Linked DNA regions of Homo sapiens: regions 1 and 3 are each reported to be linked to region 2. The links are microRNA targets in miRTarBase. Many come from high-throughput screens and were not tested one by one. Region 2 holds a microRNA gene; each other region holds the end of a gene's coding sequence.
What was found. Region 2 holds the annotated microRNA hsa-miR-568 (AUGUAUAAAUGUAUACACAC, at 4,438-4,457, opposite strand). A microRNA usually pairs through its seed, bases 2 to 8, with sites in the 3' UTR of a target mRNA and lowers its output. Matches are read on the target gene's strand: a 7mer-m8 pairs with bases 2 to 8, a 7mer-A1 pairs with bases 2 to 7 and ends in A, and an 8mer does both.

Region 1 (10,712 bases), not on the chromosome of region 2:
AATAAGTTCTAATGGTAGAATTATACAACTCCTGGTAATATAATCTTGGCAGAATGAATGTGCTGCTTTAATCTTCCACCTGTAATAGTAGCCAGGTGCTTATTTGAAGTCTCAACAGTGAATGTGTCACAAATGATGAATTGTTTGACATTTCTAGAGGAAGCAGCACTTATGCAAATCACTTCAGCAGTCACTTCCAAGGGGCTCTCCTGAAACAGGGGGGCCAAGGTGGAGACCTCTAGTGCCAGTACTGTTGCAGCTTTTTCTCTCTACACTCTTAAAACTAATGTTCCATCAGAAGAGATTTCCATCTGCCATGCAGATAAGCTCTTTGACTCCTTAAAAAGCTAACAAACTTTGCACAAAAGGAATAGAAACTGGATTGTAGAGTGTGACGTCACTAACCTGTGAAACTGCATTCCAGCTCCACTGGCAGCCACTTCTCCATGTTGGGCATCGGAGACATCGTTATGCCTGGTCTCCTACTATGCTTTGTCCTTCGCTATGACAACTACAAAAAGCAAGCCAGTGGGGACTCCTGTGGGGCCCCTGGACCTGCCAACATCTCCGGGCGCATGCAGAAGGTCTCCTACTTTCACTGCACCCTCATCGGATACTTTGTAGGTAAGAGAACCAGAGAGACTGCAGATGATCCTCGCTCTGGCTGTCCTCCAACCTTTGGAATTAAATCAGGTCTTCTAGCTACAGTTACTGGATGGAAGGAGAGCAGGAATTCTGGGTGCTGTAATAGACAGCCTGGCCCGTGAGATGCTAAGTGTTTTGTGTACTGGATAGGCCAGTTCCCTCTCCAGCTGTGTATCTGAAGAACGTTGTAGGAAAAGCAGGTCAGTCCTCAAAGCCAAGGACACACAGCACACAGTGCAGTGGATTAGTCTGTGCTTAAATCTTCCTCTAGAGTTGAATGACTGTCGTATTTATTTCCTACTTTATTCAATAGATACTTACTTACATTCATTAGTTCTACATTTCTGCCACTCTGACCTAGGCCAAGTTTTGTAGCCAGCTCATGTGTAGGCAGACAGGAGATGATTGTGATGGGGCTGGGAAAAGCAGTAACCTGCCCGCACATGCAACTGCTCCCGCACAGTGACTGGAAAGGAGCTTTTGCACTCCGTACGTCCTCCTCAACCCCAGCACTGTCCTCGTCCCACAGCAGTTCATTCACATGGGTTCATTTCAGTCCACAAACTCAGAGGGGCAAGGCAAGTGGCATTATCCCCATTAGACAGATGAGCAAGCTGAGGCTCAGAGAGGTGGAAGGTCTGAACTACATTTATGTTAGCTATTGTGAGTAGCAGAGTTGGAACTTGAACCCAGGTCTTCTGCCTCCCAAGTCCAGCATCACAGGAGACAGAGGCACACTTGGAGCTGGAAGGAGGGTTTGAACCCAGGAACCTGAGCAAGGAGTGAGACTTGGGTCAGTCATGTGTCCTTGGAGTTGTAGGTGTTTTTTAAAGCTGTGCTGATCCACATTTCTTCAACTGCCCAAGCTGGGCATTTCACACCCCAACCATAGAATGGACGACAGCACATTAGATCTGTACAGTTGCAGGACTTTGCCCAGCAGCAGCCAGGTGACACGGGTTCCCTCTCGTGTCTCACAGATGCCTCTCTCTCCTCACAGGCCTGCTCACTGCTACTGTGGCGTCTCGCATTCACCGGGCCGCCCAGCCCGCCCTTCTCTATTTGGTGCCATTTACTTTATTGCCACTCCTCACGATGGCCTATTTAAAGGTGAGAGCAGCAGTTATAAACCTGTGAAAGCAATAACTTGGATTGGCCTGTGCCTCGGTTTGCACTCTCCTCGCTGGAGGTGATTCTGCTTAAGCCCCTGAGTGAGCTTGTGATCTCGACTGTGTGTGTGTGTGTGTGTGTGTGTGTGTGTGTGTGTGTGTGCGCGCGCGCGCTACCCTGGCGTTAGCAAACGCTTCCAGATTCGTGCAGCCACTGACAGAAAATGCTGATGAGCTAGACCACTACACCACCTGGTCGAGGAATAACTAATTGAAAGCCCCAGAGCCCAGCTGAGGGTACTTCCTGCTTCTGTTCAAAGCAGTGCCCTCCTGCCACCTAACAGCTTAACACTACGTTAAAGTTTGGGAATAATTAAGATTGAATAGTGTTGAGGCAGCATATGATAAAACCAGAGTTCAAGAGCACATTATTTCCCAGATATCTATTCTCAGCCCCGTTTTACAGATGAGGAAGCAGATACAGAGGTCAACTTACTTGCCCAGCTCACTTGACTCACTACCTCTAGAGAGTTGATAAAAGCCCTTTTCTTGCTCAGGGAGCCTAAAAGCACCCCTTCTAGGGAGTCCTCCTAAAAATAGTGGGTTATTTTTGAATGGGTAAGATTTAAATGCTCTTTGGTTTCCCACAGAAGCAATCTGATCTCAGATCAAGCATCAGAAAGGGGCCAGGGGCATGGTGGCTCACGCCTGTAACCCCCGCACCTTGGGAGGCTGAGGCAGGCGGGTTAAGAGTTCAGGACCAGCCTGGCCAATATGGTGAAACCCTGTCTCTACTAAAAACACAAAAATGAACTGGGCATGGTGGTGAGTGCCTGTAATCCCAGCTACTCAGGAAGCTGAGGCAAGAGAATCGCTTGAACCCAGGAGTCGGAGGTTGCAGTGAGCTGAGATCTCGCCACTGCACTCACTCCAGCCTAGGTGACAGAGTGAGAACCCATCTCAAAAAAAAAAAATATCAGAAAGGGGCCAAGCGCAGCAGCTCATGCCTGTAATCCTAGCACTTTGGAAGGTCGAGGCAGGAGAATTGCCCGAGCCCAGGAGTTTGAGACCAGCCTGGCCAATATATAGGAAGACTTCATACCTGGAAAAAAAATTTTTTTTTTTTAAAGAATCAGACAGCTGTGTGTGCCTCATGTTTAAATCTGTAACTTAGAAAGTCCCTTGTTTCCCAGGGCGACCTCCGGCGGATGTGGTCTGAGCCTTTCCACTCCAAGTCCAGCAGCTCCCGATTCCTGGAAGTATGATGGATCACGTGGAAAGTGACCAGATGGCCGTCATAGTCCTTTTCTCTCAACTCATGGTTTGTTTCCTCTTAGAGCTGGCCTGGTACTCAGAAATGTACCTGTGTTTAAGGAACTGCCGTGTGACTGGATTTGGCATTTAAAGGGAGCTCGTTTGCAGGAGAGAGGTGCTGGAGCCCTGTTTGGTTCCTTCTCTTCCTGCGGATGTAGAGGTGGGGCCCCTTCCAAGAGGGACAGGCCTCTCCCCAGCGCGCCTTCCTCCCACGTTTTTATGGATCTGCACCAGACTGTTACCTTCTGGGGGAGATGGAGATTTGACTGTTTAAAAACTGAAAACAGCGAGGAGTCTTTCTAGAACTTTTGAACACTAAAAGGATGAAAAAAATTAGCAAACCGAAGTTTCTTCAATGACCCCTCGAGAACTTTGGGACCAGTTTCCTATAGGGGACTCAGTTTCAGAGAACTGAGACAGAAGCTCTTCTGTCGTTATATTCTTCTTTCCTTTTTTTGGATTTATTAAATATTTTCTGTGGTGTGAAGTGACTTATTAAATCCACAGACATTGAGTGACTTCTTACAACATCCACATAAGAATTTGTTGTAATGAGTTCATGTCCACCCAGATGTTGTGTTGGCAGTGAACAAGGGCACGGTTTTTATACATACGTACATATATATATATAAACACACACATAGATATATATGAATAAACAAAAATGAAATCCTGCTAAGATCACGCTGTGTAGCTGACAGGGGCTTGCTGTCGTTTTGAGCATGTCGAGCAGTTTACTGTGGCTTCCTTGTATATGGATAAGCTGCTGTCCTTCCCCTTCACAACTGACCCCGCAGTTACAAACTAGTATAGCATTTGTGCTGATTGATGATAGACTCATGGACTTCAGGAGCCCTTACTTGGTTTTGATCAGTGTAGCAAATTAGGGATGAAGAGTTCAAACCTTTTGGCCCTTTCTTTCTTTTCTAGGCTTCTCCCTCGCAGGGTGTTCCGTAGTTTCTTCTCGAGCCAATGCATGTATTATAGCAGCAGGTGTCTTTGTGCTTTCTCATCATAGTAACGTACTACTTGTAAATACATTTTTCTATTTTCTATTTTTTTGTATTTTTTTTTTTGACATTTTGTTTCATTGGTGTGCTGTATATTTTCCATGCCCTCACTCCTTTAAGAAAAAAAAAAAGGAAAAAAGCAACACAATCCTGTCCTTGCTGTTGTGATTATAGTCTTGGTTTACCTGTGGTGACAACCGGGTGTTGGGGACACATGTCAAATGCCCCTCTGAGATGGGCCCTAAATTCCAGTAACTGGGGAAAGAACCAGCTGCTGTGTCCTGAGAGCCTGGCCCTGTGCTGTGGTCTCTGCTGCAAGCCCAGATTTCTGGGAGTAACTAGTGTTAGGTCTGCTGACCTTTACCTAAGCAGCCCCTGCCTGGTAAGAAGGTGCCCATTGTTCAGAGGCAAAGAGAAGCCTGCGGTTGGCATGAGGATGCCTGACAACAAAGGCTGGAGAAGGGCCCTGAGTTCCAGCCTCTCCCCAAGGGTCCCCGCCCCAGTGGCTGCCTCTGTCTTGACCTGTGTAATGAATTAGTGTGCTGTGTCACTGTGGCTTGAAGTCACTGTGGATCGAGCTCACAGGGGGCACCCATCCTGTTGTCAACAGAGTCTGAAGCAGTCAGGGTGTTGGATTCCTCTGTTGTTGTCATCAATTCCTGCTGAGGGGTTTCTGGGGTTTTGTTTTTAATAAATGACTCCTTTGTAGCCTTTGTCACATAATCTTCACTTTGGTTGTTGGTACCAAACAGAGCTCCCAGCCATCTCCTCCCTGTTCTGGAAGACTGATGGGAAGACTCTGTCTGTCCCCAGACCTGGTCATCTGCAGCTCTGGCCCAGTCATAGATACATCAAAGAACTGAAGCTTCTGCTGTCCACAGAACTCAAAACTGCCTCTGCATTGGGTGAAGACTAAAAATCCACTTGCGGACTCTCCCTTCCTTCCTTCTCAGCCCTCGAGGATGCATATAGCTAATTAAGCAGGCCCAGAGACAGAGAGGGGGGCTCCAAAATGACTCGGATTAAGGGCAAGTGCCAGTGATGGGTAGAAATAACGTTATCCTTCATGCCTGTAATCCCAGCACTTTGGGAGGCCGAGGCAGGTGGATCACAAGGTTGGGAGCTCGAGACCAGCCTGGCCAACATGGTGAAACCCCGTCTCTACTAAAAACACAAAAATTAGCTGGGCATGGTGGCAGGCGCCTGTAATCCCAGCTATTTGGGAGGCTGAGGCAGAAGAATCGCTTGAACCTGGAAGGCGGAGGTTGCAGTGAGCAGAGATTGCGCCACTGCACTCAAGTCTGGGCGACAGGGTGAGACTCCATCTCAAAAAAAAAAAAAAAAAGGAAATGTTATCCTGGCAGTGGGTCATTTTAATTTTTCTGTCTTTGTTTTCATAAGAAAATTAAATTCCAGACAGAAGGAACGTCGTTATTTTGTCATTCTCACTTCTGTGCAGGTTTTGGGGGGAAATACCCACACAGGGCTGTGAATGCACCCTGGATTCCAGTTGCTAATCTTCAAAGCCCTTAAAACACTCCCTTAAAACTTTGGCAGAGAAACAGCAAATACTCTACTCGTCTCGGAGGGTTGAGTGGGTGGCTGCAGTTAAAGCACACATTAGACTTCCCTTCCAGTGCTCGTTTGCTCCCCGCTGCCTGATACACTTAGGTCCGCCTCTTATTCTGTTTTCTCAAATACCATGGTTTAGGGGTTTTCTAGGAAGTCTGCTGCATTAGGCATGGCATGCTCATGAAATTTCAGCAGATTCCTTCCTCACTGATCTGAAGTCCTTTTTCCTCACAAAGAGACTGTGTGTTACTAGAACTCCCGCTTTTTAATAACTCTTTTTTCTAGTTTGAGCTAATGAAGATATGACAGTAAAGTCTGTCCAAAGCCTAGTGTGTTCCATTGCTGTTATTACAGTGCATACGCTTTCTGAATGTGACAGTGACAGCTCCCCGCATAGGAACGGTTCGGTGGCTTGGGACTAAGCTACTGTCTGAATTACTTTTGTAGCAGGCTCACAGGCCTTGGGTAAACAGGTAAGTTAGGTCACCCACAAGAAAAACAAAAGTACTCGTTCTCTGTGAGGGTGGAGGGGAAGGGAGTTCCATTTTGCCAATCAAGTGTTAAAAATAGAACCTGCTGTGTCTGCTTAGCAGCTCTCACGTTACTGCTCACCAGATCCCATGTTGTGTGTACGTTTCTGTTTTGTAAAGCCTAGCGTTTACGTCAGAGCCTGGGAATGCAGCACTCGTGTCTATACATGGGAGTACATGCCTTAGGGACATCATTTATACAACCCCCTTCTCTACAGAGCTATGTCAGCGGTACAGGCTCAGAAGGAAGCCATCTCGGTCTCTTTCTGGTCTTCAGTGCACAGTGGCCAGGACAGCCTCCCCCACTTCACCGAATCACATTTCTTCAGCAGTTTCCAACAGTGAAATCATTTCTAGGACAATGGCTGCTAACACGTGTCAGCTGAAGCACTGCAGATCGAGTCATCCAACTCAAGCTTCTTCCTCTTATTGGAAGGGATAAACCAGGTAAGACTTTTTAATCCAGAAATTATTCCTATTCCCTGCAATGTATAGGGTGCTTTCTATCTGCAAAACTCTAAACTCAAATTTCTGCAGGTTCAGATTCCAACTGTCTCATGCGCAGAGACTCTCCCATCACAAAATTCTTCCCGCTCCAGCCATCATCTGTTTCCTCCTCAGCCTTTCCCTTGAAATCCAGAGCCCTTTCCTGTCCGTTAGAGGCAATCAGTCATGTTTCAGTGAAGCTTGAGGCACTGGGCCCCCCAGTGAACAAAACCAGACATCCTGACCCCCTACTCCTGCGGTCTGTGCAGGGCTTGCTTTAGCATGCTTGGCTTGTGGGGAGGGGGTGTGGCAGCCATTCCCACACAAGGTCACGCAGGGATGCCACAGTGCGTTCAAGAGTAGAATCCACAGCCTTCTCTCCGTAACTCTGGGCCTTGCTGTAAATAGCAGAGGCTTGGGCTGGGGATCCTGTATCACTGGACGGGATGTGCCAATGAAGAGAAGGCTGAGAAGCAAGTTGGTGTAGGAGAAGCCCAGTGCTCCTGGTGGACACAGGCCTGCATTCAACCAAATGTCTGAAGACAAGCGAAAGCCTACAGCCCCAAGCGCAATGATCTTTCGTCACTACAGGTTTCAGAAGTCTTACCGCACGGAGCCAGTGGTTAGCAGGTGCTTGATACAAACATCCTGCAGGGAGGCTGTGAAGATTCTAACTGCAGCACTTACGGAGGAGCACTTTAGCGTGCGGTAGATTTCCTAGATAACCTGAGGTCTTAAGAATTCATGCGGCAGACTCCGCTTCGCTTCTGGTTCCTTTCATTTGGAGTCTGCCTAACCAGTTTTTCTCTTAAGTTCCAAGACATCTTCTTCCTGTTGAGTAGAACCTGTAAAACACGCCACCTGTCTGCAGGCGAACAGAGGCTCTGAAGGTTCCAAAATAGCTAAGCCCACGAGCTGTCTCCAGCCCCCATGGAGTCCTGGGATTCTCACCAGATCCAAAGATGACAGGAATGGGAACCAGTTAGGCAGAGGAAGCAAGACTTGAGAGACTGGGAGTGGGGAAGCCGCCAGGCAGTGGGCAGCAGGCCTGCGCTTGTGAGGAATGGGAGACAGGAAGTGGGTGTCCACAGGACAGAGACGGAGGGGGACAGCACGATGGTCACTGCATTCAACCAAATGTCTGAAGACAAGCGATCCAGCCCCGGGATCCCGACACCAGTTGCTCTGTCTCACCAGAGAGCCTCTCTCCAGGCGGACCACCTGTCAGCCTGCTACTGCCACCTTTCACTCTGCCCACCTGGAGCTGCTGGAGTGTAGCCACCACGTGAGCTTCTAGCTTTTGTGTTTGAGCCTTTGCCATTAGAGATTGAATTTCCTCACACCTGCGGTTGCTGTCGTGCCTTGATGGGGTTTTTATCCCCAGGCAGATAGTAACATATCCTGTGACAGCTCCCTGGGGAAGGCGGAAACCAATTTCAGAGAAAGAGGCTGAGCGCTTGCTAGTGCAGGGAGGAACTAAGATGACGAAGCATCGCACGGATGAGTCGTGGCCTTGCCGGCTTGACGGCGGGTAGAATGCAGTGCCACCCTCCCCAAGACCACCATCTGGCCAGGAGCCCCGGCCCCACCTTTCCTCCTTCGCTTGTGCCTCCTGGCACTTCCCGCAGCCCTCCCCTGTTGAGTGTAGGCGTTCTGCCCGGGGCAGTCGCTGTGAGAGAGGCCATGGCCTGGACTAGGGTGATGCGAAGAACAGAACTTGCTACCAGATTGGATGCAGGGTTGGGGACTCCACAGTGACTCCACACTTCTTAACCTGAACAATGAATTGCCAAAATAGATAACAGAAGAAATTGGGGAAGAAGAGTTGTTCTAGCCAATAGAGCAGCTAAAGCCAAAAAAAAAAAAAGTCTTCAGTGATGTAAAGCCTTGCAGAGTATGCGAGATGACCTGGACAGTGAGAGGCAGGAGGAAGACTGCTCTGTGGTGCTCTGAGTGTGAAGGCATTTGTCATGCGCATCCCCCACACAGCCACCATGGGGCTCTGGTTAGGGATGGAGCCCCCTGAGTCCGAGCTGCTTCATCTGAAATGGGGATGAAGGTGCCTCATAGAAAGTATTGAGTAAATATGAGGCGCTCTTCTGGTTTACTGTGTTCTCATATATTTCACACACAATGCTCAGAGAGTTGGAATACAGTTAAAATCATTAGATCTGTACGCTGTCATTATTCAAACCACCACAGCTCCCGGTTCATCATTAGGAATACTGGTTCTCTCCCCTCTGCTGAGGGGTGATTTCCCCCATCCAGGGTCTTGAAATTTTCTTCTACACACTGAAAGCCTTAGCACAAAGCTCCATATGCAGAGGGGGATGGTGGGTGACCCTGCCCATGCAGTTCCTCATTTTGGCTTCTTAAGGCCAAGAAGATCAACCTCTACCCAGATTCTGCACACAAACCAGTGTTGACGTTTTTATTTTTCTGTACTTTTTTTTTCCATAATAAACACTGCATGTGCCCTCTTTAACTTCAGTGTACTTTAAAGTCTTACTGCTTGTTTTGAGGGAAAAGTTTACTACACTGTGAAGCTCCCATTCTGTCAGTCTTTTGTGGGCCTGTATTAGTTGATACATCTAGGTTTTTCTTGAACACCCTTGGAACAAAAGACTCATGGGCCAGGGCCGGGCTCGGTGGCTCACGCCTGTAATCCCAACACTTTGGGAGGCCGAGGTGGGTGGATCACCTGAGGTCGGGAGTTCGAGACCAGCCTGACCAACATGGAGAAATCCCGTCTCTACTAAAAATACAAAATTAGCCGGGTGTGCTGGCATATGGCTGTAGTCCCAGCTACTCGGGAGGCTGAGGCAGGAGAATCGCTTGAACCTGGGAGGTGAAGGTTGCAGTGAGCCGAGATCGCACCACTGCACTCCAGCCTGGGTGACAGAGCGAGACTCCTTCTCAAAAAAAAAGACTCATGGGCCAAACTCCTATCCTGTGTTAAAATAAAACACAGTGTCATTCTAAGCCACTTGGCTCAGGTCAGTCCACTGAATAGGAGAGGGACAGTAGCCAGACTAGAGAGAGTGAAAGAGGAGATTCCAGCCACGCATTTGGAAAATTCTCAGTCCTCCAGGACACAGTGAAGCAATCAGGGCTGAGGCACCGTCTGATGAAGCAGATCAATAACTGGTGGGATGACCCATGACCCTCCCCAAAAGTCGCTGATGAAGGAGCTGATGCTACCTTGAAGGGATGGGCCCGGGCTTCGTCCTCAGCCCTGTCCTGTCCCACATCCCTCTTGATCATTTGGCCAGGGACACAGTTGCCAGGCTTCATTTGAGGAGAACGTGAAGCAAGGAGAAGGGACATACTCATGACCTAAAGAAAGCTCAGAGGCCTGGGGTGTCAAAGCAGATCTGGGGAGATCTGCTGGAGAGAGCCCCAGCCAATGATGGCCACACACCGGGTGTCAGTCATGCCTCCCAAGAGCCCTTTAATAAAGGCAGGTGCCATTACTGTCACCATTGTCACAAAGGAACTCGCCAAGACCCCAAGATCACAAATTGCTAAGTGGCAGAATAAGCTCTAAACACTGTCCCTAATCATTATATTCCATCCTCATCCCAGGATTAGAAATGATCTCCACCCCAGAAAATACAGGTAAGGCATAAACACTGATGGCTCTAGGGCCTACTCTTAGTTCCAAATACATTTAAATCCTACTCTTAGTTCCAAATACATTTAAATCCATCCACTGCCTGTAGCAAATAAAGATTCTTGCAACAGCGTCTGCCTGGGTCTCCCTAACTGCAGAGTGTGTTCCATGCTGTGGGCCAGAATGGTGGCCTGTCATCTCAGATCTTCAGTCTCATTATGTAACGGCAGATTTTATCATCCATTTTATGTACCCAAAGTTTCAAGGGCAGCTAATTTGCCCCAGATCTTCCTGCTTCCAGAGACTGAGCTCATTGCCCAGATTATGAGAAAATAATCACAGCCAGGTTTTGTAGACACGACTTGTTTAGCATACATACAGAACTGTGGGGAGTTTCTGTAAACAGGGAAGGACCATGCAAACAGCATCGTAT
Region 2 (10,712 bases):
TAATGCTAATGATGCCACAGAAGTTTTCATGGAGGCAACAAAACTGGCTTGGAGCAACTGAGGTATCTGAAATTATCTATCAATCAATGTTCTTAAAAACTGAGATATAAGGAAAGCTAAGAGTTGCAGATACAGCCTTGGGGTCCACAAGTTCTCTGCAAGCGTTTAAACATTGTGTGTTTTAAGTGAAATGATAATCTTCAAAGAAGTCATCTATATCTGGATGTTGATAGCCTTCTTAAAACAGAGTGTTGTCATTGGTTTTAGCCTCTATGTTTGTGTTTATACATATAAACTTGATTATAATCAAGTTTATTTAAAGGCACAGAAGCTTAATTTATAAATGATTCATTTACTCCCAGATGGGTGGAGAAGTGGAAGACTTTGCAGTATTGAACTAACAGGAAAGTGAAGCGATAATTGCTTTACTTTGCACACTGTAGTGTAGGGATGTTGTATTCAGAAGGGTGTGTGCAGTACACTTAACTTTGTGAGCCATGACTTAGATTCAGGAAAGCATCATTCTATGCACTCATTGTTATTGTAGACATTACTAATTTTATAGTTTTACTTGTACTTAATTAGTAACTTGTAGTTTTATAATTCTACAAGGGATATAAGCATAGTAAGTTCACTTGTCGTTGTGTTTGAGCCTATTTAAGAATGTCTATAATAAAATAATTATGCATATTATGAATTTATTACTAGATATTATAATAAGAATAATTATTTTATTATTATCGCCTCCCATTGAGGAGGTCTGTGAAACTATTTTTTTTCCTTCATATGGGCATACACACATTACTCAAGTTTGAGAATAATGGTATGGTATAAATATTATTGGATTTCAGAAAACCTGACCTCAGGCACTAGTTTATTGTTTTTTATTGGAAAAACACATATTTCTGAACCTGTGTTTTTATAAATTAGTGCAATCATAGCTACATCACAATATTTACAGTATAACTGTGAAGATGAAGGATATTAAGGAGAAACTTTGTAAACTGTGAAGTACCATATGAGTAGCGTATGTGTCATTTACAATTATTACAGCCTGTATATAAATCGCACCACAATGTTTTTAACAGGTACAGAAGAAAACTTAAGAGTGTGTGGATAGTGCAAAGAGAGATCCAAGACTTTGGGTGAAGCTGGCTGGCATTGTTAAGAAGATGTTGGTTCACAGAAATGATATAGAGACAAATTATGCATCATGAAAATATTTTCTTCCTCTTTATACTTCTAGACTATCAATCAGGTTGACTTAGAAGTTCAGCAATTGAGTTGCAAGAAGTAAATATTTAAATTCACAGTGGTAATGTTGAAATCTCAGGAATTTATTGACATCCTTTCAGTCTAGAGGTCTCTTGATGACTCTCCCCATCCCAAGCTCATGCCTGGATATTTTTGTGCTCCTCACACTGGTGGAAATGTCTGTCCACACTCAGCTTCTCCAACTCAAAGCTTAGTGTTCTTGCGAGTCCCCAAACTAGACCGCTTATTCTTTGGACCCTTTCTTGACTCACTCTAGCCATTATCAACTTCCTGTTAGTTTAGAAACTCCCTTGGCATTGAGAGTCTGAATGGCACAATCTAGCTCTTGATTTTATACAAACCTCTCTTCATGTCTAGTTGTTAGATTTTAAGCCTTCTCATGGCTGAAATAATTTCCTCTCTTTTATTCATACATTGCACAGTGCTGACTGAAATACAGAAGACATTGTGAATTTAATTTGTGTTGACTTCACCAAGGACAAACAAGATATAAGTTTTCTTCACCATATTAGCACTTTCTGTAAGAATGATGAGATCAGAGAGCTCTTTATGGCCAGGGTCACTATAACAAAGAATCTATGGGCCAAATAGGAGTCCCTTATGAGTCTCCAAAGTCATTAAAGAGGGGCATGTTTTGTGCCATGAACTTTCCTTTTTTGCATATGGAGCTGAGAAACCCAAAAGTTAAAAAGGAGACTCAGTGATAGATTCATGGATAACAGAGATGGGTGGAAACAAGAATAGGTGGGCATAGTGTTATAATATGGGATTGATTATTTCCACAGCAGGCAGACTGTGATTTGCATGTGGAAAAGGAAAAAATGTGAATCAATTTGTAGAGCAATAAGTGATCCTTGTCATTTTTGAGGTTTGAATATGTATAAGACAATACACCAATTTGCTTTATATTTCCTCAAAGTGACTTCGACATCACCAATCCTGTCTGTAGTTCCTACTTCTTGTATTGAGAAGACTAATATACTCAGAGTTTTTCTGGCCTTGTAGGTAGAGTCCTCAGTTTGGATAAATAATCTCAGATTAGACATAGAATACAATGTGTGAAAGAATGTGGAGAACTGCCTAAAACAGAAACTACAGTATAAAGAAGACACAATAGGAAACCAAGAGAAGAGTTTTTTTTTTTTTAATTATTCCTTCATATTCAAACTTCACAAACAGTGTGAACTTGTACAATACCTCGGAAAGTGAAACTTACAAAAAAAGTGCTGGTAACATTTAAAAAAAAAACAACAAAAACCCCAAAAAAACAAACATCATTCTTAGCAACATCAATTACTCTTCCACACAAAACAGAAACCTTGTAAAATTTATTTTCGTATTTTTAAGGCGTAATACTTCCGTATAAAGTATATGCAAGAGATAAAACTTCACAGTATTCCAAAATGTCACAATAATAATAATAATATAATAGTATAATGAAGCGCTACAGTTAATTTTTCTTTTTTTGAATGTTTTTTTTCCTGTTTAAATAACAAATACAAGTCACAGGTAAATATACGTGAGAAAAATACGAGGCTAATATTAAATGGCAGGTAAGGATACTGTCACTGTAAGAAAAAACTGGCAGGATGTGTGTATTTAGTCTATATTTTAAAGCACTTGATAGAAAAGGCGTATGCAAGGTTTTTCCAAACAATTTTTCTGTTTGTTTGTTTGATAACTGACAACAATTTAAGAGTATAATGAGAAAAAAAAAGGAACAAACTCCCTCTCAAAACTATTGACCTGCTCATCCCAAACCATGTATATGTTGATGGATGGATGTGTGTTTTTGTGGATATATGGATTTATACCGTGCACAGAGTGATACAAGCAGTGTTCCATGCCCACCTGCAAAGATTGGAGGGTATAACACTGCAGTCATTCAGCCCAGGTTCCTCTTAGGAAATTAACCTTTCAATTTAAAGCTCTCTTTCCTTGCCTCTCCCTCTTTCCAAACTCTTCCTCAATTCCCAGGTCTTTGTTCTGAAAAGACAATCTGGTTAGAAAAGTTGCCCTCCACTCATAATTCACTGGGAAATGGAAACTGCATAAACAGTGACACACAGACACTGGAAACACCACTTGAATGAATGAATGAATGGATATGTATGTGTGTGTGCATGTGTGTATGTTTTAGGTCACATAAACATACAGTGTGTGCGTGGGTGTGTGTATTTTAGGTCTAAACATACAGTGTGTGTGTGTGTGTGTGTGTGTGTGTGTGTGTGTGTACACAGTAGCAATTGCAAAAAAGGGACCATATTCCTTTCCATACTAAGATACAATGTGATAAGAAACATTTCTGTGCAGGGAAAAAGGTTTCTTCGAATCTTATCACAACACTGCGGCGGGAAAATCAGGAAATGGGTTCACCTTTCAGCAGTCACCACAGTAAACTTCATTGAGAACATACATGCCCAGATATCTCTTCTGTGCACATGTATATGTTAACAGCTAGCCATTCAGCCAACAGGTAACAGAAAGACAGCAGATAGCAAACACATCAATAAGGTGCTCAAAGAAAAAAGTGGCACCCACTTCTCAAATGGATGGCCACGTTAAGGTGCTTCAAAAAAGGTTTTTTGTTTTTTTGTTTTTTTTTTCAGTTTTTATTTCAAACATTAAGAGAGTACTGATTTTCACATGGTAGTTCTGAGTCAGGCCAAAGGTTTTGAGGTTTCTGACATCTTTCACTGAAAAGGGCTTTCACTGTAGTAGTTTTGTTCAGTTTGTTGTGGGTGACGAGTTTAAAAATGTTTTTCATAGCCAGAAACTGAAATCAAATCAACATGACTAAAAGAAATAACTGATGAAATGGTATATAGAACATTACTGCATTCGCATCGGATCAAGATGGTTTCGCCCATTTTTCCTTTTTCACTAACACTGTTCCTTTTTTTCCTTGTTACAATCCATTCTTTATGAACATACAGAAATGACCAAAGTCACTGCAAGTAGCTGTTTTTATTTTTTGTGATCTGTTGCAAGAGTCCAACCTTGTTTCCTCTGCTGCTGTTTGTGTAGCATCTGGTTTTGTAATGAGCATCTGGATTTGTAATGAGCATCTGATTTTGTTATGTGCATGTGTGTATATATGCACATATACACACCTATACATGTATAATATATACACTATATATATGTGGATACATATAGGAAGTGTGTATACATTTATACATAATATAGTGTATATCGTTTCAACTGGAGATAAACTGAACTGGGTTCAGACACTAGCACATGCTTAACTTTCCCCTGCTCCCTCTGTATATTTTAAACAGTCTGGAGCTTTAATTTATTTTTTAAAGTGCATTTTCAATGCAGAAAAACTGTAATCCACTGATTCCTTGGAAAACATTTTTGATGAGAAAAATCTGACAGTTCTCAGCCCCAAGCAAGAGAAACCTGGGTTTGGTCATGCTGGGGGCTGACGTGGCAGTGCCAGGCTCGTGCCTGAGTGATTAATGGACATTCTGGACTCCGGGCACCTTAGCAGCAGCAGCAGCACCTTTATGAGAAGGTAGAGATAGAAAAGGAAGAAGGAAGGAAAGCTCAGATGAGGAAGAATGAAGTATTGTGTTTACGTATCAAAATTGCTAACTTTGACTATAATGGACTTGTGCAGTTCCTGTTGGCCTCGGCTAAGAGATGCCATCTAGTCCCTTCTCCACCAACTGACACCAAACTCCCCATGGCCCCTGCATGCTCAAACATCACCCATATGTCCCCACGCCTAAGGCTGACTTCTGTGTCAGCTTCTTGTGGGTATGTGAGTGCCAGCATCAAGTAGGAATAAGGCACCAGAGAAATCAAAATGTTACAAAAAGATGCAAACCCCATTTCAAAGAGCCTCTCCCATTGCTCCATTAAAATATTGCATGTGATACCATTCGTTTGTGTGTACCTAAAGTGTGTCAAATACAGTCTCTGAAAGGAACTCGAGGCCCTTCAGCACCAGAGATCTTCAGGAATGCATCTTTTTTCTAAACACACCCACACCACCCCCAACCCCCCATGCCCACCCCACACCAAAAGCAAAAGCACCAAATTGGGAGAACAAGGCTGCTTGCCATTGCTCACCTCATTTTTGAAAAAATCAGAGAAGTCTATGAAATACAATGTTCAGGAAATGCTCTGAAATCAAACGGATTTAGGCTGTCATGTACATGGTTACTCAATGCTTTAAATGTCCAAAGAGTGTCATGAAGGGGTTGAAATGTTTGTGTTCAATGTTTAGGGGGAATGTGTTAAACAAAAGTTACTTCTCAAACGATGCCCAAATCTTCCACTAACACATCAACCTCCCCTATCACTTTTTAAAAAAATTGTAAAGAGGAAGAGGTTCATCTAACTATAAAAGGAAAAGATGAAGGCACGTGATATTATTCGGTCCCACAATCCTTAAGAAAAACGGTATTTTGCAAGTTTGTGTGTGTGTGTGCTCGCATACATGAAACGCGAGTCCAAGGGGCCATTGGGGCAGTAGTCCAAGGGAAGCTGGAAAAGGGGAACAAGAGAGAGTTTTTAGACAGAAGAAAGGAAAAAGGAAGAAATAGAGGCCTCTCTTCAGCTTTCTGTCATTGACAGTCTCAAGATTCGGCTGCTTTAGAGTCCAGAAAGGAATTTGTTTGTCTTGGTCTGGAAAGTGCCCCAGTTAAATATCTCCAGTTCATCATGGTACAGCTTTTGGTGTTTCCCTTTTCCCTTCCCTCCAGCCAAATGATTTTTTAAAAAAATCACAGTTTTTAAAAATTATTTTTTCAATGTTGAAAAAATATGGAAAAGCTATTGAACAGCCTTAGGGCACTGCCTCTCCATCTTCACAGTGAGCAGATGGATGGATAATCCACAGAGTCAAAGAGGAGGTGGGCAAGATCCCTTGTGCTCAGTGGTCTCTTGCCCCACCTTCCTGAGGGCTGGGGGGCCTTCACACCACCCACAGCCATTTCCCTCCTTTGGGTCCCTGCCCCCCTGCTCCCATCCATGGAATGTGGGCTGCTGAGAAAGGCAGAGCCAGGCTAGGGAACGATGATAACAGTAACAGGAGGGTCTCAGAAGCAGAGGGTGAAGGAGACAGGAGGCGTGCTCTCCTCAGGCAGTGTTAGCAGTGTGCTCTCTTGGCAGCCTCATCTCAGGATGGGAAAGTGTGGTTGCCCACTGAGAGGGTGAAGTCCCACTCACATTTTACTTCGTGAGACCTCAACTCTCAGGCTCACCACCTTTATGCCTCTCTTTGCATCAGGTTGGCCCCCAGTCCCTAAGAAGGCAATGATTTGAGATAGAGAGGCAGAGCCCGGCTGTGTCATACAAAAAAGGGCAACGCACAGCAGGATTTCAGAAACAAATTTAACTTTGGTTTTCCAACTTTTTCAAACCATAAAAATTAAAGCAGGGCTTCGGTGGCTTTGATAATCTGACAGCTGTTATATTTTTCTCATTTGGCAAGGCTAAGGCAGGGGGTAGGGGGAAGAGAAAAGGGGTTTCCCATAATTGGTTGAAGACACAGGGTGGTAAAATGCTTCCACACTTAAACTCACAGTCCAGTGTTTTTGACATTTCATAAATAGCTTTTTTTCTCTAAAAAAAGAATAAAACAAGAACAATCCCTTTACTTACTCATCTGAAACAAAATAAACAGCAGTGGGTACAAACTTCTTCTTGTAACAATTACAAAAAACAACAATATAATCCCAACTTTTAACACGCATCTTGAATCAGTAATTTTTTTTTAACCTCAAAACTGCAGCATATCCTTAAGGGCAAACTTTTCGATTAGTTTTTTTCTTTTTTTTTTTTTAAATAATGTCTTCACCAAAAAAACAGTCTTGTACCAATAAAATGCATTCAAAAATAGAAAATATTACACAACAAAAATATGTATCCTTCCTTTCCAAAAAAGATTCTTCACAAAAAAATGTAGAAAAAATTCCAACAATTTTTTTCCTCTCCTAAACATTAACCTTCAGTCTAGGGCACAATTATTTATTGATTTAAATGTCTGTTTTTGCATAAAACATGGAAGATGCAAAACATTTACTGTATTAGGATTGTGAAGTTACAGCCACTCCCACCCCTGCTCTAAAACAAAACAAAACCAGAAAAAAACCAGCAAACATTAAACAAATGATAGAGTCAGTTGGCTAGGAAAAATACCGCTGTTCTTCCCTTTACTGTGCATTTGTATGGGTAAACGGGCCAGTTTGGTATTGGGGAATGTTGACGAAGGGAGATCAGGTTTCAAGATTGGATTCAAGAGCTTCTTTAGCATATGCTGATACCAATGAGTCACTGACAGTCCCCAGGTTGTACAACTATCCATTGCAAATCCTCATGAGAAGAGAAACACATGAGGTAGCACATGGGAAGTCAGAGGACTGAAGCGTGTCCATGTGTGTACTGTACACATACATCTTGAAAAACCACTTTCTCAAGCATATACATATATATATATATATAAGCATATACATATATATATACACACACACACACAAATTTGTTACATAGCCAATTTGTTTTTAAATATTTTTTCTCAAAAGGGAGCTCAAGCATAAGTTAAAAGGTGATGTGGAAATCCAGTGGTATGAGGAAGGCTGGGGTTATTTCCTCCATACTTTCTTCCACATTTAACCTGTTTGGGCATTAATTGCAATAATGACAAGATCTCTGCTCTCAGAGGAATGCTCTGTTTTCTCCATCCCCATTGAACTACCAGGTTCCTTTTATATTTTCAGCATTGTAGTTTAAACTATGTATTTTTCTTACTTGATGATATTAATCTTTCATGTGGGATGTAGTTTGTATGTGTATTCAGTACAAATATATTTTTTTCATAGCTGTTTTCCCCTGTTGCTTATTTGCTGTTTTTTTCCCTCATGGTTTTGCTTTGTTTTGTTTCTGATTTTTTAAACAGTGAAATATGTCCAATTTTATTTCCAGTGCATTAAACAAATTTTAAATTAAAAGAAGAAATAAACGTTTCCCCCCATCTTTCTAAAGGAAATGACTAACAAAAGTACAATACAATAGAATCAGGCATTGCCAAGAATAGCATGATGTGCAACCTCAATTATATCAAAGAAAACAAATAGACAAACAAGAATTATAGAACATAAGTATGAAGGAGCCAAGATTACATAATTCCAACTATGGTATGATTGGCAAGCACTGGTTAAAAAACAGGTAAGGCTACTCTTAGATTTCTAACTCAACATAGTTAACCACTGCTCTTCTGTCTTTTCCTTCAACTTTTAATCTTTTACTCCCTAGTTCTTTATATCTTTAAAATGAACAAATTTGTTTTTATATTTTTGGTCTACAGTAGAATTACATATTAATAATATAATAAAAAGATATTTCATTAACAGGTTGGTACTGCATCCATGTGGGGACAATAGAAAAAAAGTACTCAAATAGACATAGCAAATGGACTCTATTCTTATAAAAATAACCACAAATATAAAGAAATTATAATCAGGGCAACAGATTAAAATGAAAAGGGGTATAGAAAGATATATTTTAGATAATATAAACTCCTGACAAGCTATGCCCTAGAATTGCAGCCTCCAAACCTTGCCCATGATTTCCACCTTTCCATAGCCTCACTTCAAGTTCAAATGGAAATGAAAACAAAATAAAGTGAACAGGTGGTTGAGCCAGCCAAAGCCTCCAAGTTATGTTAGGTGGACAGTAAGACCAGGTGGACAGCATTTGAGAAACTGGCTGGACACAGGGGAGCTGCTACTGGTATTTATATTTAATTTGGAGGAATTTCCAGCCCACTGATAAAGAGAGAAACCAAGGAACCAAATGACTTTTCTAGTAACATATAATATATGAGATGAAATATAATTCTGTTAGAGAGGACATGGTGGTGAGATGGGAAAGAAAAGAGAAGAGAAACAGGCAGACTTCGGGCACCATCTCCCTTTGTTTTCTACAATGCATTGGTTTCCTTCTGTTGCGGAGCATTCTTTAGGATTAGCTACAGACCCCAATGTCCTCTGAGTAAATATATGTCAGCTCAGCTCCTGACATGATATCCATGCTTATTGGCCTCCTGGAGGGCTGGGTGGTTCTGGAGGGTCCCTCCCCTGCTATCACTGCCCACTGGCCCTTGCCTTCAATAAAGCAGAGAAGGTGTGCAAAGTTTCAATGGCAGGGGCTCTTTACGTTAACTATACCTAACTGATGACTAATTCACACAGATGGTTCCATATGGAAACAAAAAATAAAGAGAAAGAACTGGTAAGAGTTGAGCTCGGTAGCCAACTAGTGTGAAGTTTTCTTCCAGGAAAAAAAGAAGGAGAAAAAGAAATGGTATCTGTCAGAAAATACTGCTTTTGGTTTCTTTTAACTTTGAGCTGTCCTTGGTTTTTCTCTCAGTCAGTTGCTCCAGTTTAAAGGAGAGTTTAGAATCTAGTGCAAATATCATCAAATCACAGCATTCCAGAGCAATATCCTGTCCCTTCATCCTAAGTGGATACTGTCCCTTCAAACCTCCTCAGAAGACTGGAGGCAATGGTACAGAAAAGCGTAACTGAATAAATTATTAATCTAGTACTCACTACGACAAGAAAGGCACTATCACAACAGATCAGCCTCCAAGCATTTTCCTTGCCATGGGCATGGGCGTTTCAACCACTCCAGAAATCACAACAAAATCCAGACTGTGGCTTTTTCAACACTTGAATTCATTGGCCAGTTGTCTGACTCTCCCACCGGTCACTGCTGTTGGCTCTGGCCATACAGAACCCTGATCTGCACTGTGTACATGCTGCCCTATGTTTCACCAGTGACCTTTGTTTGGTTCTAAATGATTTAGCTCACTCTCTTCCATGGAAGTTTCTTTCTCTCCATCAGTCTCCAGGTCATGACTCTATTAAAGATCATTTACAGTGTCAAGTAGTGTTGTTTATTTTTTTCTATTTTTTAAACCTCTGATCAAATCCAAAGTCATAAAGATAGTTCAGTACGTCCTCTGATGACAAGGTCTCCTGTAAATACCATTGTGAACAGAAGGAAAACCATAGTGTAATCCCTTGACCACCAAAGCATATCCCTTGAGCCTGTTGTAGTACTTTTTTCTGGGAGAGAGGAAATTGCGATCTGAAGATTAAAATCTTTGGTGACAGAACTGGAGTGGATATGCAAATTTCAAGGAAGAAGTTTTCCAAAGCCTCAAGAGAAGTATCCTAGGACAGTTAATGTGAATATATTTTAAAAAGTCAATCATTTCTTTCTATAGCTTTGGTTTGGTGCAGTCAATGTCCTCTTAGTGATTACCCAATACTTATTTCTAAGTACCTGTTAAAAGCTCTGGATTTAGTTTCTTACTTAAAACAGAGATAATGCTTTGAGTGCTTAAGGAATTTCTTATGCTAGTTTGGATGGCTCTAAATGGAGTTTTTCTGACTAACAAGGCTGACAACTTTCTGAAC
Region 3 (10,064 bases), not on the chromosome of region 2:
CGAGGCGGAGGTTGCAGTGAGCCGAGATCGCACCACTGTACTCCAGCCTGGCAACAGAGTGAGACTCCGTCTCAAAAAAAAAAAAAAAAAAAAAAAGAGCTCACTATTTGACTTAAGTCTTCAATTATTATATAGTATCTTCTTTTGAAGCAAGAGAAGTACTGTTTTATTGTAAGTACAATATTTCCAAAGATTGAGAAAACCTTCATTAAAATGTTCTCACCATCTGGCACTTCCCCCCCTCTTTGTTATGTATAGGTTTCCCAGGCAGCTGCAGACTTGAAACAGTTCTGTCTGCAGAATGCTCAACATGACCCTCTGCTGACTGGAGTATCTTCAAGTACAAATCCCTTCAGACCCCAGAAAGTCTGTTCCTTTTTGTAGTAAAATGAATCTTTCAAAGGTAAGTTTCCTTAAATTTAAAACAAAAACCCACACTGTAGGAATAACTAGTCTTCTCTTTCTTTGCAGCACTTAAAAGATCATCCCATGCCCTTTCCTTTGGCCCTCCATTTCCAGTATTTTTCTGTTTTGCAAGGAAAGTGAGGATTCATGAAACTTGCTGACTTAGTAGCCATGAAGGCTAATCGTTTCTATTTTACCATAAAGAAGGTTAAGTAGAGGATTTAATAACCATAAAGAGGGTATAGGAGAGTTACTACAAAATCCCACTGCCGTAACAAGCCATGTGTTACTTTTTAGAGCATTGGCCTAATGGAGTCCCCAAGTACTAGTTTTGTTTTTGTGTACCTGGCAAATATTTAGACAGTTTTTAAAAAATCTGCAATGTTTATGGGGATAACTTAAAGTACTACCAACTGATTTGGATTAACTCTTGATGTTATTGCTCTAACTGAACCCAGCTGTAGAGCAGTATAGCAAAGATTGGGAATTGGAAATGCAAGAGAAAGTCAGATGTAATTGAGTAAGCCAGTGTGGTAGAGGCGTTTGGACTGAGGTAGAACAGACTTTATATTTTGTTCTCATTTGTTAGATTAAAGATAAAACATGAAGGAAATGCAGTATATAAGTTCTTGGTGGCAAACAGACAGTGGACTGAATTTCAGAGAATTAAAAACTAAAGACCCTGTTGGCTTTATTAAAGCATGCTTCAGTACATTAATTTGTGCCTTCCAGATCAAATGTCATGTGTACAAAATGTATGTTAATCTAAGAGATGTGACCAAAAACGTTTTGGATCATTTAAAATGTAACTGAAGGGTGCTGCCTTTTATAAATTCTTAGTACTTTAGTTAGGGAATGTACTCATTAGTATTGACCTATGAGAAGCAAACTTAAACTAATAGTACTTTTTTAAAAAAGATTTTGTATATGGCACACACCCCTTACTAACTTTCTGACTTCTCCAAAGTCCAGGAAGCTGCTTCCTAAAATACCTTGTTACATAGTTGTGCCCTCCTTAATTAAGCTTCCTAGACCTGGGAGTGTCCAGGAAGTCTGTATAAGTACATGTTTCCAGTAAATACAATGATTGGTTAAGATGTTTAAGTTTTTTGAAATACCAGGGGGAAAAAAAGCCCTTTGAAAACAGGTGTCATGTGCACAAAAATGCACATGAAGAAGTAATTCACTTTCATATTTAACAGTTTATTATAATATCCTTTGTTTCTGGTACTATTCATTTAATTCTTCATGGTAGTTTTTGGAAGTTTCATATTTTTATGGTTTATTAATGATTGTTTTTTTAACCTCAGTTCTTGTATTCACTTTACAGTGGTTTATTTTCATTTGAATAAAATACTGGGCAGCTGTTAATAGTTTTACTTCATAGGAATCTACAGATAAGTGTTTAAATGAATTGCTCAAGTTTAAAAATATGGCTGGGGGTAAGAACCCAGAAGGTAAAATAATGTCTATTAATCCCAGCAGTATAAGAAAACAGCTTTGTGGATATTAAGATTTGCAGCAGTTTGGGCTAGGAGAATAATAATTGGGCATCAAAGCATTGCTTCTCAAGCTTGAATATATGCAAATCACTTTGTTAAAATGCAAATTCTAATTCAGAAGGTCTGAGGTGAGTCCCTAGAACTTGCATTTCTTACAACTGCCCACCTACACTGATGCTGACAGTACTGGACCTACACTGAGTGGCATGAATGTAAAGAATCTACATTGGAGTTATGTATATAAATACAGTTTTATCACTGGAGTGCAGTGGCGCAGTCTCGGCTCACTGCAACCTCTGCCTCCAAGGTTCAAGTGCTCCTGCCTCAGCTTCCTGAGTAGCTGGGATTACAGGTGCACACCACCACGCCCGGCTACTTTTTGTATTTTTGGTAGAGACAGCGTTTCTCGAACGCCTGACCTCAGGTGATCTGCCCACCTCAGCCTCCCAAAATGCTGAGATTACAGGCGTGAGCCACCGTGCCCGGCCCTGTATTTCCTTTTAAGAGGAAATTTTACTATTTTTTTTGAGATTCCAGCTTTTGAAATTTTTCCTCTTTTACACAAAACAAAATAGAATAACACAGGATTAAAAACTGTTAATCAGTAGAACATGTATGCACAAAAAAATGCAGATAAGACGACAGGCTTATTGACAGTATTCGCCGTTTTTCATTCTGCCTTTTTTAAATGAATTTATTTCATTAAATACTCTTTGTAAACAAGATATTTAATGGTTGTACTAAACTATGATGGAATTATACTTCACTGAATATTTAAGTTTCCAAAATTTGAGGTTACAGTGAGGTGAAGATTTTGGTGAACATCTATATATACTTAGTACCTCTATTAAGTTTCTAGAAGTAAAAAGGAGTGAACGTTTAACATTTTTACAACGTTGTACTTGATATCCCCTGCCAATATAATACTTTGGCCTTCCACTAGAAACATGAGAATGTTTTTTCCTTGAGTCCTAACAAACCTTAGTCTTTTCTGTCACTATTTTAGGTGAGATTAAACATTTTTCACAGCATTCTGTTTATGCCTTTTCAACATTTTTGTCACAGACTATCTCAGATTAACACTTTTGTACCTTTCCATATCAATAACTAATCCTAAAGTTAGTATGCTCATGTTTTAATTTTTTAGTACACTGTTTTTCAATTTAATGTTTTCATTTTTTAAATCTTTTAGTTTATACTCTATTAAACTGAAATATTATGGTTTGAAAACATAACTTATTTTTTAAGGCATAACTTATAATAGCTTTGTATTCCATCATATGTAGAAACCTTCGTTTATCCATTCTCCTACGGAGTTATATTTAGGCTGTTTCAGTTCTTTGCTGTTAAAATACTAATACAGTCAGTATCCTTGTACATGTTTCTCTATGTCTGGGTTTATCTAGGTAACTAGAAGTGTGGTTGCATCCTTTACTTCACTAGATACTGCCAAACTGCCCTGCTAAATATAGTCTTGCTCATTTTTCTAAGGATGTTTGGATTTTTGATTTAAGAGAGTTTTATTAACCTTTTTTATTATATACAGAATGTATTTTGGCAGTAATCTTAGCAAGTTAATCTGTAAGTCTGTTTATAAAACAGGAATGACTTATACATCAGAGTGGTTGTGAAAATTAAGGGAAAGATTTTACTGTTACTGGACCATAGGCATTTCCCATCCTGCTTCTTTTAAGTTATTCATGAAAAAAATTAAAAACTATGTTCTTTGATACTTTACCCTAACTCACCTTTTTTTTTTTTTCCCCATCTTAGGTTTCCCAAACCACTCCTTATGATCCAGTGAATATTCAAGAGAGCTACATTTGAAGCCTGTACAAAAGCTTATCCCTGTAACACATGTGCCATAATATACAAACTTCTACTTTCGTCAGTCCTTAACATCTACCTCTCTGAATTTTCATGAATTTCTATTTCACAAGGGTAATTGTTTTATATACACTGGCAGCAGCATACAATAAAACTTAGTATGAAACTTTTATTTTGCATTATTATTGGTATTAAATACATGGTATATTAATCTGTTCTGAACACCTGAAGGGGTTAAGTTTGTACAGTTTTTTCCACCTACTCTTCTCACATGACTTTATGCCATACATCTGGCAAGACTGCTAGGGAATTAAAGGTAAACTGTGAACCTTTATTCTTTTAAGGTCAGGAGGAGGCTGTTAAGTTCTACGGGTTTCCATCCATGAGTTACTTATAGGGTTAACTTTGTTTCAGTGCCTGAATGGAGTACTACAGCACCATGTAATGAGGTAAAAAAGAGCTCCCCACAACGTGGGCACAAAAAACCAAAAACCTCAAAATCAGGAAGCAAAGATTAGCTTCAGTAATTTGCAACTTTGCTTTAAACCCTGGTAGATCATTTTGCTTTAAATTTTTTACCCTTCTGAAGGCTTAAGAGAATGTTAAAACATCCAGAAACCTGGCCTCCATTTAAGCTATTAAAACTGTGCCAGACACTGGGAATCCAAGGTTAATCTGGTATAAAAATCAAGGGTTAGCCAATATTTACCAACCATTTTATTCCTCTCATGTGTTCTATGCAAATAGGAAAGTTAATCTGAATCTTGATTCCAACTTAATTATTCACAGTTACCCAAAAACAAGAGAACTAAGTTTAAGGAAACCTAAGCCATCAAAATAACTTTTATTTGTATTTTCTACATAAACACACAGTGGCAATTCATGGCATTTGGTAATTCGTCCAGACGTGAAAGGTTTATGAAATCAGCAAATGCCATTTTGAAAAGAGTATTCTGTCAAAAATAATTTACCAAAGTTCAAGATAGGCCTGTTCAGCAAAATCCAATATCATTCTCTCAGTACTTTATAAATGGAATTTTCTTCTACTTGTATCCATTTCCCGGGGCTGAAAGTGGAAAGCAAGGGAGTGGAGGAAGAAAACAAAACAAAAATATAATTAACAATTCAGGTAAGACAGTAAAAGTTAACGTCCCTAGATCTTCATAAGTAACACTAGTGCTGAAAAACCGGGTTTGTGCGAGACCCCGAATAGTCAGTCTTCGGTCTAATATAAAAGATGTTGGCAGTTACTGTGTGTGTGTGATTTTAAAGTAAAATGTTACTAAGTGAAGTACTGCTTATACTAGATAGAAAAGGATGTTTTAGGCCATGCACGGTGGCTCACACCTGTAATCCCAGCACTTTGGGAGGCTGAGGCAGGCAGATCATGAGGTCAGGAGATCAAGACCATCCTGGCTAACACGGGGAAACCCCTTCTCTACTAAAAATAGAAAAGATTAGCCGGTGTGGTGGTGCACACTTGTAATCCCAGCTACTCGGGAGGCTGAGGCAGGAGAATAGCTTGAACCCGGGAGGTGGAGGTTGCAGTGAGTCGAGATGGCGCCCCTGCACTCCAGCCTGGGCAACAAAGCTGAGACTCATCTCAAAAAAAACAAAACAACAACAACAAAAAAGTTTTCATTTATGATTTAAGATGATGATCTCCAAACTTCTAAGAAAACTTATCAATAGTTCTCAAGAAACATGTAGTAGAGTCACATATAACACAGGCTTATAAGCAGATTGCTGCTGGGTCCCACCCCCTAAATTGCTGATCGAGTAGGTCTGTGGGCCAAAGAATTTTCATTCCTAATAGGTTCCTAGGTAATGGTGCTGGTCTCGCTTTGAGAACCACTAATGTTTATACTTCAGATGAGCCAAGGTTAATCACCAGACCCAGATATTGTATCTTTTTTTTTTTTTTTTTTAGTTCAAGGGTATATGTGCAGGATGTACAGGTTTGTTACATAGGTAAACGTGCTATAGTGGTTTGCTGCACAGATCATTTCATCACCTAGGTATTAAGCCCAGCATCCATTAGCTATTCCTGATGCTCTCTCTCCTCCCACCCTCTTATCCCATACTTTAAAAATGACTTAGTCTTTTTAAACAATAAGCACATACCTTATGGACCCATTCATACTCTCCATATTTAGAATCAAAGGTTCCTTTCTGAAGAGACCTTAATTTTAAGGTAAAACGTGGTCCAAGTTCCTGAATTCCCACTTTCTTTTCACTCCTGAATATGTATCTTCAAAGACAAAAAGAGTTAAATTAGTCTGAATGAGCTATTGTTTAACATTATGACAGGGTTCAAAAGATAATTCATTTTATCTTGTATGATACTTGCTACAATATGTTGGAAAATTAGTTCATGTTGAAAATATATTTCATAATTGAAATCAAAGTTCAATGAGTTTACCTTCCTCACCTGTGAAATCTGAAGAATATGTAATCCCGTTGATTGTGGAATGTGGCAACCTGCCTTCCGATAAATTGAGGATTATGAGGAAAGAGAGATGCAAACATACGTCCAATTGAATGACCCAGCCGTGTTGTAAAATTATTCAGAATTATTTCAGGTATGTGTTCTGTGGGGTCCTTGCCTCTTCTCTAGAAAAATAATGAAAAATAAATATCACAATGGGCTAAGCTAATTGGCAATACGTCCCAATGCAATTTCAAGTATCAAAATTTACATGACAAATTTGCAAAATGTATTTTTTAGTGACAAACTACCACAGATGGCTTATCAAACCCATGAAATAAGATGTATCTAAAATTATTTTAATATGCACTGAATGCAACAACAAAAAAATCCTATTAGAAAATCAACGTGCTTCATAGTAATGAAGACTATTGCCTGCCGGCTGTAACTTAACCACAGTCTCCCAAGAGAATTGATAGATTAAAAACTGCTCTAATCAGGAGAACAAATGCCATTATTAAAATAAATTAGAGCTATAAGATACAGCATCTATTGATCAAATAAATATTGTGAAGAGATCAATGCCAATCAAAGAAATGTATAAAACTTACCTTAATTTCTTTACGAAGACGAACACTGCTCATTTTAAAATGAGCAGTTGGGCCATTTGGCAAGTGACTCAAAATAAGTCCATCTGTTCATAAAAGTTAAGAAAAACACATTGAACTCTGTAATCTAAATCTAATTGTTTAAATAACTGGTCCTCTACATCCAAAGGCCCCTAAAATCTGTACCCAAGTGAATAGGCAGATGTACATATTCCTCTGAAGTGACATTTTCCTACCATATCAAAAGCTCAAAATCAGTCAAAATCTTTCAAGAATATAGACTAACCTAGAGTAGTCCTTTTTTTCTCTTTTTACAATATAATAGTTAATCACGCTCAATAGGGTATCTTAAGGTACCCTAAACTAAAGTAGGTGAAAAAAAGCTATTTAATTGACCACTACTCTTAGGAGTAAAATAGGATGTGATTCTATAATCATGTAACACTGCAAATAGAGTATGAGTTTACCTCCACGTTCTAAAGATGTATAACCCCAAAATGTCACTTTTATACATTTGTATGGTCACGATATGCTGTCAACTTTGAATAACATCCCATGAGACCAGACTCCTAAACTTTCCTCTATGAAATTAAGGTTATTAGTATTTTGCAAGAGATCACCCCTTACTTAGGATTACTGTACCCCAAATTATAATCAACAAACCAATTAATAGCCATTCACTGACTGTCATTTCCCATGAACTGAGAATTATGCTAGACATGCTAAACTACAAATGAAATGTGAGATCACCTACCTACAACCAGCAGGACTAGCAGCCCAAGGACTCTAGAAGTCCTGGGTGCTGCAAACTAAGGTTGCTACCTATATAATATTCTTCAAGTTTGTGGCACAATCTGACCTTCACTTGAAACACCTTTACTTTTCATGAGTAATTCTTGGCTATTGCTTAATGGCATTACAAGCAGGCATATTAATGACAATGGACAGGGCTTTCACTTTGTATTATGCTTTTCTAGTTTAGGAGAAATTTTCAAACACATTTCATCTGATTCAACAACTTAAATAGGCCAGAATCAGATGGTTTCAAGTCTATCTGCATTTAATATGTATCTTTCAAAGCAGATGTTGCCATCTTTTTACAATGGCATCAACACTCATTCCTCCAGATTAGAAGCTATGGTATCTTCAGCTTCTCCCTCTCCCACCAAATCTTAACTGCTTTTACCTTCAGAAGTTCTCACTTAGCATCCTCTTTACCCTTACTGTCTTAGTGAGGTCCTCAAGATTTTCCACCTAGATTATTAAGGTAGTATTGTGGTTGGTCTGACCTTTTTCTCACCATCTCAAGTACATCTCCTAATGCAGATTGTAAAATCAAGTCTGGACTTAGGCCTTGGTTCTATAAGTAACCAGCTATGGGACTCAGCTGTTTCATTATATCTGTACCATAGTTTCTCACATGCTAAGTGAAAAACAAACTAGATACCTTCACAGTCTTGACAGCTGTAGCTAATTTCATACTACTCTCATCACAGACTCATCTACAGAAAAAAGACATTAGTATCAGACTCATAATGTGGCCACAAATTACCTTTTCAACCTATTTACCCTATGCCCACATCAAGCCTGTTTCCTAACTGGTAGGTACTCACAGTCTTATGTACTATATATGTGAATCCTAGCATGCATTTTTTGCTTCTGCTATTTTGAATACCTGCAACGTTTTACTCATCTATTATGGTCTACTTCAAATGTCACCTTTTTATGTAGTCAGAATTAAGATCTAAATCTTCTCAGTTCTGCTACCACAGCACTCATCACTTTTTGAGTTAGGAAAACACCTTTCTTCCCAACTAATCTGTTAAAACTTAGGTAGGGATGGGAATTTTTTTCTTTTGTTTTTTTTTTTTGAGACGGTCTCACTCAGCAGCCCAGGCTGAAGTGCAATGGCACGACCATGGGTCACTGCAGCCTCAACCTCTCGGGCTCAAGCAATCCTCCCACCTCAACCTCCCAAGTAAATGGGACTACAGGCATCATGCCCAGCTAATTTTTGTAGAGAAAGGGTTTTGCCATGTTGCCCAGGCTGGTCTCAAGCGATCCACCTGCCTTAGCCTCCCAAAGTGCTGGGACTGCAGGCAGATCTTTTTTTTTTTTTTTTTTTTGATAGTAGTGCCTACCATGCATCAGATTATCAGCAAACGTTTGAATTCTATCATTTTAAAAGATTCACCACAGGCTAAACTTCATGAAATACAGCCAAAAGTATTTATTAAGGGGTCTAGGAGATATAAAAGTCATTTCTTCCAACGCCCAAATCAAGGCTTAAATCCTTTCTAGAACATTCCCACTAAATTGTGGTCTGTGTCAAAAGCCAAGTACAAAACCCAAACTTACCAGTTTCTAAATAACTTCTTTTCCCATGTACCTGCATTGTGCAAGAGGCTTTATTTACATTACTGCTAATCCCTAACACAAATCACATAAAACAGGAGTCATCATGCCTATTTCAGTAATGAGGAAAAGAGGCTGAAGAGGGTCAAGTAAATTAGCCTAAGTAAATCAGACTAAGGCAACTGCAGATCTCAACCACGGTGGGACTGCACCTAGCTTAAGCCCCCTGCTGACAGCTGCTCACATTTGGAAATGTACAGAGGCATTTTGTTTGTCAGTATGACTGAGGTGTTACTGGCATTTAGAATCCAAAGGCCAGGAATGCAAACCATCTTGGAAGCTGCCAAGAGTGTAGCACAAATAATTACCCTACCTCAAATAACAGTAGTTCCCCATTTAGAAATAATGAATAGAGGATGTAGGTCTGTACAGATAAAGTTTACATGCTTCTCACTATACCACGTTTACTAAAATGCCTACCATGTGCCAGACACTATGCTTTATAAACATAATACATTTAATGTGATCTTTGTGGGAACTCTAAAGATAGGTATTATTTCCCACATTTAAAAAACGAGGAAATTGAGTGGCTAAGAAACGTGACTAAAATCACAAAACTAGAAAATAATGGAATCTGTATTTGATATCACAGCTGCCCTGACTCAAAGCCACTACTAGGTTTCTACAGTTTAGACAGCTGATGAAATTCTATTTTAGAATAAGTCAAAAAAGTATATCCCTTTAACTTTCACCATTCAGCACTACTCTTCCACACAGTAGCCCCTCCAATGGTCTTTAGAAAGACGCCATGTTCCTAGAATCTACTTTCCCACAGGCTAAATCCTGTTTTTTCAACTTTCCCCCCATGTGTCACCATTAGGAGTTGTGATTTTTATTCCTGAACCCATGCTAAGTCTCTAGGATAATCACCATTTTTTT

Region 1: miRTarBase lists SPPL3 as a target of hsa-miR-568. Seed matches in the 3' UTR shown: 7mer-m8 at 3,673-3,679.
Region 3: miRTarBase lists GNG5 as a target of hsa-miR-568. Seed matches in the 3' UTR shown: 7mer-A1 at 3,776-3,782.

What each region holds. Positions count from the first base shown.
Region 1 is chr12:120,757,306-120,768,017 of GRCh38, reverse strand. SPPL3 (signal peptide peptidase like 3) reads left to right here. Exons shown (of 11, transcript NM_139015.5): 9 at 425-624; 10 at 1,646-1,755; 11 at 2,948-5,508. The coding sequence ends at 3,019. Among named protein-coding and RNA genes, the nearest start is that of ACADS, 37 kb to the right of the region's middle. RefSeq lists a silencer at 4,757-4,920.
Region 2 is chr3:114,312,098-114,322,809 of GRCh38, forward strand. MIR568 (microRNA 568) reads right to left here and starts at 4,472; the gene lies at 4,378-4,472. It overlaps ZBTB20 (zinc finger and BTB domain containing 20), which reads right to left. Exons shown (of 12, transcript NM_001348800.3): 12 at 2,403-10,712. It overlaps LOC124909411 (a long non-coding RNA gene), which reads left to right. Exons shown (of 2, transcript XR_007096008.1): 1 at 1-62; 2 at 1,089-1,315. RefSeq lists an enhancer at 3,866-3,915.
Region 3 is chr1:84,492,165-84,502,228 of GRCh38, reverse strand. GNG5 (G protein subunit gamma 5) reads left to right here. Exons shown (of 4, transcript NM_005274.3): 3 at 259-403; 4 at 3,681-3,904. The coding sequence ends at 384. It overlaps RPF1 (ribosome production factor 1 homolog), which reads right to left. Exons shown (of 9, transcript NM_025065.7): 6 at 6,774-6,856; 7 at 6,166-6,347; 8 at 5,859-5,985; 9 at 3,877-4,800. The coding sequence ends at 4,759. Among named protein-coding and RNA genes, the nearest start is that of SPATA1, 9.2 kb to the left of the region's middle. RefSeq lists an enhancer at 8,084-8,133.